Linked DNA regions of Homo sapiens. The protein of the gene in region 1 interacts with the protein of each later gene in a pairwise test. Each region holds a gene or a part of one and is shown in the gene's direction. Other genes may lie near its edges.

Region 1 (4,555 bases):
GAGGCAATGGGTAGGAAAAAACATTTATCTAGAATCTGAAGTTTAAAAAAATTAAAGTAGTTTCTCCTGCTGTGCTGCCTTTTTTTTCTGCTTTGCTTTTTCGAGGTAGGAAGTTCCAGGACAGGTAATATGTCTGAGGAAGCCTCCACCTCCCTCACCCTACTCACCCTTCTCCTCTGGGACCAGACAGGCAGGAACTCCAGGGAAAGCCCAACAAGGAGCTGTCCTAGAGCACTGATTTCATTTTGGCTTCAAGTAAGATTTTCACTAGCAACTCTGCTTTTCATCTCTTTTAAATTTTATTATTATTATTTAGCATTTTCTTATCTGTTACAATGTATTAGGCACTGTTCAAAGCGTGGCATTAGTATTAATATGTTACCCATTCATTCATTCAGCCTGCTGGAGACTTGGTAATGGCCTCTTTATTGAGAACTTACTCTGTGCCAGGTAGTAAGCTAAGTTCCCAATTAATCCTCACATGAGCTCTTCCTTGCCAGGCAGGAGAGAGGGGAAGATATCTGTTAGCATTACAGAGGAGTACACAGAGACTCAGAGAAGTCAAGTGCCTTGTCCAAGGTCACACAGCTAAGTCAGTAGCAGAGTTGGTATACAAACCCAGATTCCACATTACTGCAAAGCACCAAGCTCTGTCTTATCTAGTGACCACCCTCAAGCAAATCACGTTGTAAGACTGGCAGAAATACGAGGTTTCTTAGTTCCCTACCCTGGCCTAATGAATCAAAATTTCTGGCCCCTAGGCTGGCCTGAGCAGTAGAGTCCCCCACAGCAGTTCAAAACCTGATTCCGTCCCCGGACCCAGTAGGCACGCAGGGCCAAGCTGTTGGGTGGACGGAGGGGACGGGACTGCCGGGAAGGTCCCTCACTTCTTTCTGGCCCCTGGCAAATGTTATGTTCTCTCCTCTGAGAAGCCCTCCCTAACCATCCCTGGCCACCCCCCGCAACTGCTTACCCCTTTACTTTGCCTTAGGTGTCTTCCTCGCGTCTCTCAGTCTTATACGTGGGCTAGGTTGAACCATATGACATTGTCCTTTCTATAAATTAAAAAATGGTTGAAAATGGGGCATTTCATGCAGTCCAATTCAAGTGTTTCCCTCTACCAGAATGTCAGCTCCAAGACGGAGCTGGGAAGTGGTTCACAGCCGTGTCCCCAGACAACGCCTGGCACACAGTAGGCGCTCGATAAATGACAGGTGAGTGGCCGAGGGAAGGCGCCCACTTCGAGGAGTTCCGCAGCCTGAAGAAAGGCCCCGCCGAGCCGGAGGACCCCAGGGGACTCCGCCCTGTCCTCTGCAATCTCGGGTGCCTTCCCGGCCGCGACGATCGGGCGGGGTGGGGCTCGCCGTCATCCATTTACCAGCCTCGCCTCTCGGACGGGCGCGCCGTTAATGAGATTAGCAATTTAAAAACCAGCTAGCTGCGTCGGCGGCGGAGGCGCGGGGCCACCCCCAAGCCGAGCCGGGGTGGGACGGCGCGCCTGGCGACCGCGCACTGAGACTGCCGTGCCGGACCCCCGAGCCGGAGCCGAGCGCGCCGAGGCCGGGGCCATGGAGAAAGCGCGGCCGCTGTGGGCCAACTCGCTACAGTTCGTGTTCGCCTGCATCTCGTACGCCGTGGGCCTGGGCAACGTGTGGCGATTCCCGTACCTGTGCCAGATGTACGGCGGAGGTGAGTGCCCACCGCGCCCCGGCCCCAGCCCAACTCTGTGCGCGTCCCCGCCGTGTGTGCGAGCCGGGGTTAGACCCAAGTTACAGAACGGCACACTGAGGCCGGGAAAGCGAGCGTGATTTGTCCGAAGTTACAGACCCGGGAGTGTTCCCAGGACACCTCGTTCCGGAGCCGGAGCTCTCTCCCAAGCCGCCCTCCCAAGCCCTCGGGAACCCCTCGCCCCATCCCGGGGGCGGCCAAGCCCCCAACCCTCACCCTTGTTGGCCAGGCTGCGGCTCTGAGAGCGCAGGGGACGCGGTCTCCTTCTTCGAGAGAAGTGTCAATGGTCTGACGTCTTAGTGAGTAAACCTTACGTTTAGGTGTAAAAAGTGAGTAGGAAATTGTCTTATTCAACAGAAACTCGTTATACAACTTTCAGATCCGAAACTTAAATCAACGGTTTGAAACTCAGGTTAAGAGAATCTTGAGCCATTTCTTTAAATTTTTTATAAGGAGATTGGTTTGAGTTTGGAACGACAGAAAGCAGGAAATGCAAATCATTCTGTTTTGTTTTGTTTTTCTTAAATAAATGTTTCCTCCGAAGCATCATGCACGCTCCGGGGACAGCCAGCCAGCCACGCGCTCTTACCGCACTCCCCTAGCGTTGCGGAAAGCTGGGAACACCTTCTACACATGTCTATAACCTCGTGAAGCCCAAGTACCTTTTTGGAAGGCAATGTGGCAAGAGGGATTTAAGTCTCAGCATCTAAAACACTTTTTTTCTCGGTTGTCTCGTTTCTAGAATTGTATCTAAAGGAAATTGTCAGAGTTCTGACAGAGGTAGAAGGATGGTCACCATCATTTAATAAGAGCAAAACATTGGCAACTTCCTAAGCCCTCAAATAAAGGGGATTGGTTCAGTAAATTATAGAGCATCCATTCAAGGTTGCTCTTCGCAGCCTTTAAGGCGGCATTTTCAAAAAAAAAATTGTATTTTCTCGTATCCTGTATTAAGTGGAGGGAGGAGAAATCAGATTCAAAGCTATATAAAATGGATTTGACATTTTAAAACAATTACTTAAAAATATGCAGAGAAAAGAATGGGGAAAAGACATCAAATTGTTAACAAAATTTCTGGGTGATTTTTGTTTACCTTGTCGTGTGTGTGTGTTTTTGTGTGTGTATGTGTGTGTTTGTGTATTAGGACTTCTATAATTAGCATGTTTTTTTCACCATAAAAGATCATGGAAGATGTTAGACCAAAGTATTTACGAAAATGAACCCATTTGAGAAGACCAAGAGCTAAACACTGCTCCCTCCTCCCCTTACCCCAAATCAACAAAAGGTTAATTCATAGAGTTTTTAAAACAGTGCATTCTTAATTTCCTGATTCCTTTTTAAAATTTGAAGTGCATAAATACACCATAATGATGTGAAGGGCATATGTTGCCATATGCTCTAACAGCATTACCATGTGCTCTAACAGCTCTATAACTGACTCTTAAAAAGAATTATTTGTCAGAATGAGATTTCCACATCATTCTGTGCTCAGTAGACCTACCCATGATACCTTTATCCTGGGTACATGTTTCCCAGTCATCAGTCCAGGTGAGCCTCACTGTCACATGACTACTTAATTCCTTGTTTATAATACCACCATCACCTGAATAGTCTGCAGAGGGATGCATGTGGGGCTGATAGTTCTGGAGTTGAATATGTATCAAGGGGTTGCTAGGGAAACCTCAAGACCCTCAGGTTCCAAGAAAAAGAAACAAGAAGTAATCCTGTGCCTGGTGCAGAGGATGCTTCGGCTGGATGGGTGGATAGATAGATGAGTGGAAGCCGGACGGAGCATGGATTGGTGGCTGGGTGTATGCATGGATTAGTGGGTGCACAGACAAAAGGAGGGTGTGGGTCTGGTGGATGGCACCCTGTCAGCCACATGTCTACAGAATAAAGACCGAACAGTCCACTTGGCACCGTAGGCACTTGACCACCTAACTTGACCACTTGTCCAATATTTCCACCTCATTTCCTGCCACACAGCTTCAAACCTCCTCCTGCCTTCCAAACACTTCCATGAGCACCTCCTTCTGTGCCTCAACCCTTCACACAAGATATTTCCTCCACCTGAGAGGCTGTTGTTGCTGGGAGAACTCCCACCATTCCCTCCAGGTGGGACCAAATATTGCTTTCTCTCCGTTGTGCTCTCTGACTCTCCTCACTACTTCACAGGCCACATAAGCACTTGGTCAGAAGAACTGCACATTGTTCTTCAGTTTCTCTGTCTCCGCCCGGCCCAACCTCTGTGATGTGATGGAGTCACAGGAGCCATCCAATAAATATTTGTTGAGTGAATGAGCAAGGTATTAGGAAAAGCCACAGAATAAATGACGCTAGAGGATGCTAGAGGCTTTCCCAAGCCTTTCACTGCACAGTAAAGTCACCTTTAAGAAGTGATTTGTGTTGCCCCAAACCCAGGCAGTTTACAACCCATCCCTTACCGGAAGGTAAAAATCAGCCACATTATGAAAGGCTGCAGAGGGGTGTATAACTTCCTTGTAAGCAGAGCTGCAAATACCCCCAGCAAACAAAGAATTTGTTTATAAACCACAGAGCCAGGCTGTGCCAAAATACTTCCCAGAATAAGACGGATTAGGGATCTGTGCCCCTCTCCATGGGACTCTGCCCGTGACTGGAGAGGCTTGTTTCCTTCCTGCTCCCCAGGCCAGGCCCGGCCCGGCATGAGGAATGTTAATTCTGAAGATTACATTCCAGGTACCAATCATCTCTGTACAGCCCTGGCTGCCTGCTCTAGAAAAATAAAAAATAAAAGGCAGCTCAAAGAACTTCACAAAATCTCTTTTTGAAAAAGTCAGCAGGTCTT
Region 2 (3,814 bases), on another chromosome or scaffold:
CATGGATGGTGAGTACCTTTCTATGAAGGTGATAAGGATCCACTGAGTCTTCTGGTTAGGGTCATATTCCTACTGCAAGTGGCCCTTACTGAGCTGAGAGATGTCATTGCCACAGGGAGGACCTATAGGCACATGTAGGTTGAATGAAACTCTAGTTCCACTTGGCAGCCCAGACAAGGGATGGGTCAGTGAGCAAGGCTCTCTTCCTAGTCTCAGGCCATGCCTGTGGCGCCCTAATCCTACTCTCATGACACTGGACCTGGGCAGATGTGACAAATTCACGCAACTCTGATTTTGTCTCAATTTTGTAGATCTTGTAGATTTCATCCTTCACTCTAATTTCAGCGTCTAAAATCCTCGCTACCATGAACAATCTGAGTATTTGATGAGACAGGGCTGAATAGTGCAGTTTTTCTCCTAGCAACCATTTGGGGGTATTTGCTTTAAATCGATTGGAAAAATATGGCATAACCATTTGCACAAACTTGGGACAAATGATATTGGGATAACGATCTACCAGAATAGGGAATTTTACCCACAGTTTCTGGGACAAAAACCAAGGAATCTCTATGGTGATCAGCCTTCAGGCCTCCTGAAGAATATCTCTCACAGTGTCCTATTCTCATGCTGAGGAGCCTGAAGTCTCTGTGTGAGGATTAGACAGTGGATTGTTATGTGTGTAGGAGAACCAGCTTCATATATCTGTCCATGTCTGAACTTATTGCAGAAATTGAAAAGTACCAAGAAGTGGAAGAAGACCAAGACCCATCATGCCCCAGGTAACTTTGAGCAATTATGGATGCTTAATTCTGTGTTGACACCTGGAGATGCCAGGTCCAGGGAAAACAAGAGTGTGTTCAATTTCATGTTTTCAACGAAGGTTGAATTACTCCTACTGACATGGCTGTTGGTTTTCATTGCAGTAGATGTTTAGGTTTCCATTTCTTCCTCCCCTTATCATTTACTAACTTACTATAGGTTGACCATACCTCAAAGGCTGTATGGCAACTGCATGGAATCTTGAGCAAGTTTATGGAAAATTATTGAGCCCACTCTTTTCATGATCACTGTTCGCTGTGTGTCCCGAGGGCACTAACTCAGAGTGTCCTTTGACCCCTTCATCAGTGTGTCACCCGGCCAACTCGCTGAGCTCACTTTCTCCTCTCTCTCTCTCTCTCTCTCTCCCTCTCCCTGTCTTTCTCTTTCATTCTTCTCTACCTGGCCCTGGTCTATCCCAACATAAAGGCAATAATTCATTACCTCATTAATGGATCTGTCCTTTTTCTTTTTAAACAGTTCCTTATGTTAGCCATGAAATCTAGCTGGGGCTGTGTGGTTTCTGATTCCCCCTGGCTTATTCTTTACTTTTTCCTACTTTTCCAGGCTCAGCAGGGAGCTGCTGGATGAGAAAGAGCCTGAAGTCTTGCAGGACTCACTGGATAGATGTTATTCGATTCCTTCAGGTTATCTTGAACTGCCTGACTTAGGCCAGCCCTACAGCAGTGCTGTTTACTCATTGGAGGAACAGTACCTTGGCTTGGCTCTTGACGTGGACAGTGAGTACCTTACTATGAAGGTGATAAGCCTCCACCTGGTCTTCCAGATAGGGGTGATATTCCTGTTCCAAGTGGCCCTTACTGACCCGAGAGATGTCATTGCCGCAGGCAGGACCTGTGGGCGCATATAGGTTGTAATGAAACTGTAGTCTCAGTTGGAAGCCTAGACATGAAATGGGTCAGTGAGCAAGGCTCTATTCCTAGTCTCCAGCCATGCCTGTGGCAACCTGAGCCCGCTCTCAGCACATTGGACCCAGGCAGATGCAAAAAATTCACAGAACTATGATTTGGACTCAAGGGTTTGTAGATTTCCTCCTTCATTCTAATTTCAGTGTCTAAAATTCTTGCATCCATGAACGAGCTGGGCATTTGATGAGACAGGGCTGAATACTGCAGTTTTCCTCCTAGAAATCATCTGGGGCATTTTCTTTGAACTGATGGGAACAATAAGGCATAACTGTTTGCACAAACTTGGGATAAGTGATTTTGGGATAACGATCTACCAGAATGGGGATATTTCACCCTTGGTTCTGAGATGCAAACCAAAGAATATCATGACCAGCTTTCAGGCCTCCTGAAGTATATCTCTCACATTGTCCTGTTCTCATGCTGAGGAGCCTGAGATCCCTGTGTGGGGATTAGACAGTGGACTGTTATGGGTGTAGGTGAATTGGCTTATTTTGTCTGTCCCTGTCTGAATGTATTGCAGGAATTAAAAAGGACCAAGAAGAGGAAGAAGACCAAGACCCACCATGCCCCAGGTAACTGAGCAATTGTGAACAGCTACTTCTGTGTTGACATCTGGAGACTCCTGGTTCAGGGAAAACAGAGCGGGCTGACATTATCGATTACATCTTTTCAAGCAAGCCTGAATTATTCCTACTAACATTGCTGTTGGTTTTCATTGCAGTAGATATTTAGGTTTCCATTTCTTCCTCCCCTTATCATTTACTAACCTACTGTAGGTGGACCAGACTTCAAAAACTGTATTCTCATGGCGACTGCATGGAAACTTGAGCACATTTTATGGAAAATTATTGAGCACAGTCTTTTCATGATCACTGTATGCTGTGTGTCCTGAGGGCACTAACTCAGAGTGTCCTGTTACTCCCTCATCAGTGTGTCACCTGGACAATTCACTGAGCTCGTTCTCTCTCTCTCTCTCTGTGTGTGTGTGTGTGTGTGTGTGCGTGTGTGTGTGTGTGTGTGTGTGTCCATCTGTCTTTCTCTTTCATTCTTTTCCATTTGGCCCTGTTCTGTCCCAACATGAAGGCAATAATTTGTTACCTCATTAATGGATCTATCCTTTTACTTTCTTAACCACTTCCCTATGCTACCCATGAAACCTAGTTGGGGCTCTGTTGTGTGTGATTTCCCCTGGCTTATTCTTTACTTTTTCCTCCTTTTCCAGGCTCAGCAGGGAGCTGGTGGAGGTAGTAGAGCCTGAAGTCTTGCAGGACTCACTGGATAGATGTTATTCAACTCCTTCCAGTTGTCTTGAACAGCCTGACTCCTGCCAGCCCTATGGAAGTTCCTTTTATGCATTGGAGGAAAAACATGTTGGCTTTTCTCTTGACGTGGGAGGTGAGTACCTTTCTATGAAGGTGATAAGCATCCACTGAGTCTTCCATATAAAGATCATATTCCTGCTCCAAGTGGCCATTACTGAGCTGAGAGATGTCGTTGCCGCAGTGAGGACCTATAGGCACATGTAGGTTGAATGAAACTCTAGTTCTACCTGGAAGCCCAGACAAGGGATGGGTCAGTGAGCAAGACTCTCTTCCTAGTCTCAGGCCATACCTGTGGCGCCCTGATCCTATTCTCATGACATTGGACCTGGGCAGATGTGACAAATTCAGAGAACTATGATTTTGACTCAAGGGTTTGTAGATTTCCTTTTTCACTCTAATTTCAGTGTCTAAAGTCCTCACAACCATGAACAATCTGAGTATTTGATGAGACAGGGCTAAATATTGCAGTTTTTCTCCTAGAAATCATTTGAGGGTATTTGCTTTAAATTGATTGGAAAAATATGGCATAACTGTTTGCACAAACTTGGGACAAATGATATTGGGATAACGATCTACTAGAATAGGGACATTTTACCCACAGTTTCTGGGAGAAAAACCGAGGAATTTCTATCATGACCAGCCTTCAGGCCTCCTGAAATATATCTCTCACAGTGTCCTATTCTTATGCTGAGGAGCCTGAGGTCCCTGTGTGAGGATTAGACAGTGGATTGTTATGTGTGTAGGGGA

The links.
Region 2: the proteins of SLC6A20 (region 1) and NBPF19 interact in a two-hybrid assay, tested with the Homo sapiens proteins (one large-scale study listed by BioGRID).

The regions. Positions count from the first base shown.
Region 1 is NC_000003.12:45,793,433-45,797,987, reverse strand, and holds the start of SLC6A20 (sodium- and chloride-dependent transporter XTRP3), read left to right. Parts: upstream 1-1,451; 5' UTR 1,452-1,568; coding exon 1,569-1,689; intron 1,690-1,944; exon of another isoform or gene 1,945-2,089; intron 2,090-4,555. UniProt on the Homo sapiens protein: Mediates the Na(+)- and Cl(-)-dependent uptake of imino acids such as L-proline, N-methyl-L-proline and pipecolate as well as N-methylated amino acids.
Region 2 is NC_000001.11:149,502,451-149,506,264, forward strand, and holds part of NBPF19 (NBPF family member NBPF19), read left to right. Parts: coding exon 1-8; intron 9-727; coding exon 728-779; intron 780-1,383; coding exon 1,384-1,556; intron 1,557-2,265; coding exon 2,266-2,317; intron 2,318-2,967; coding exon 2,968-3,140; intron 3,141-3,814.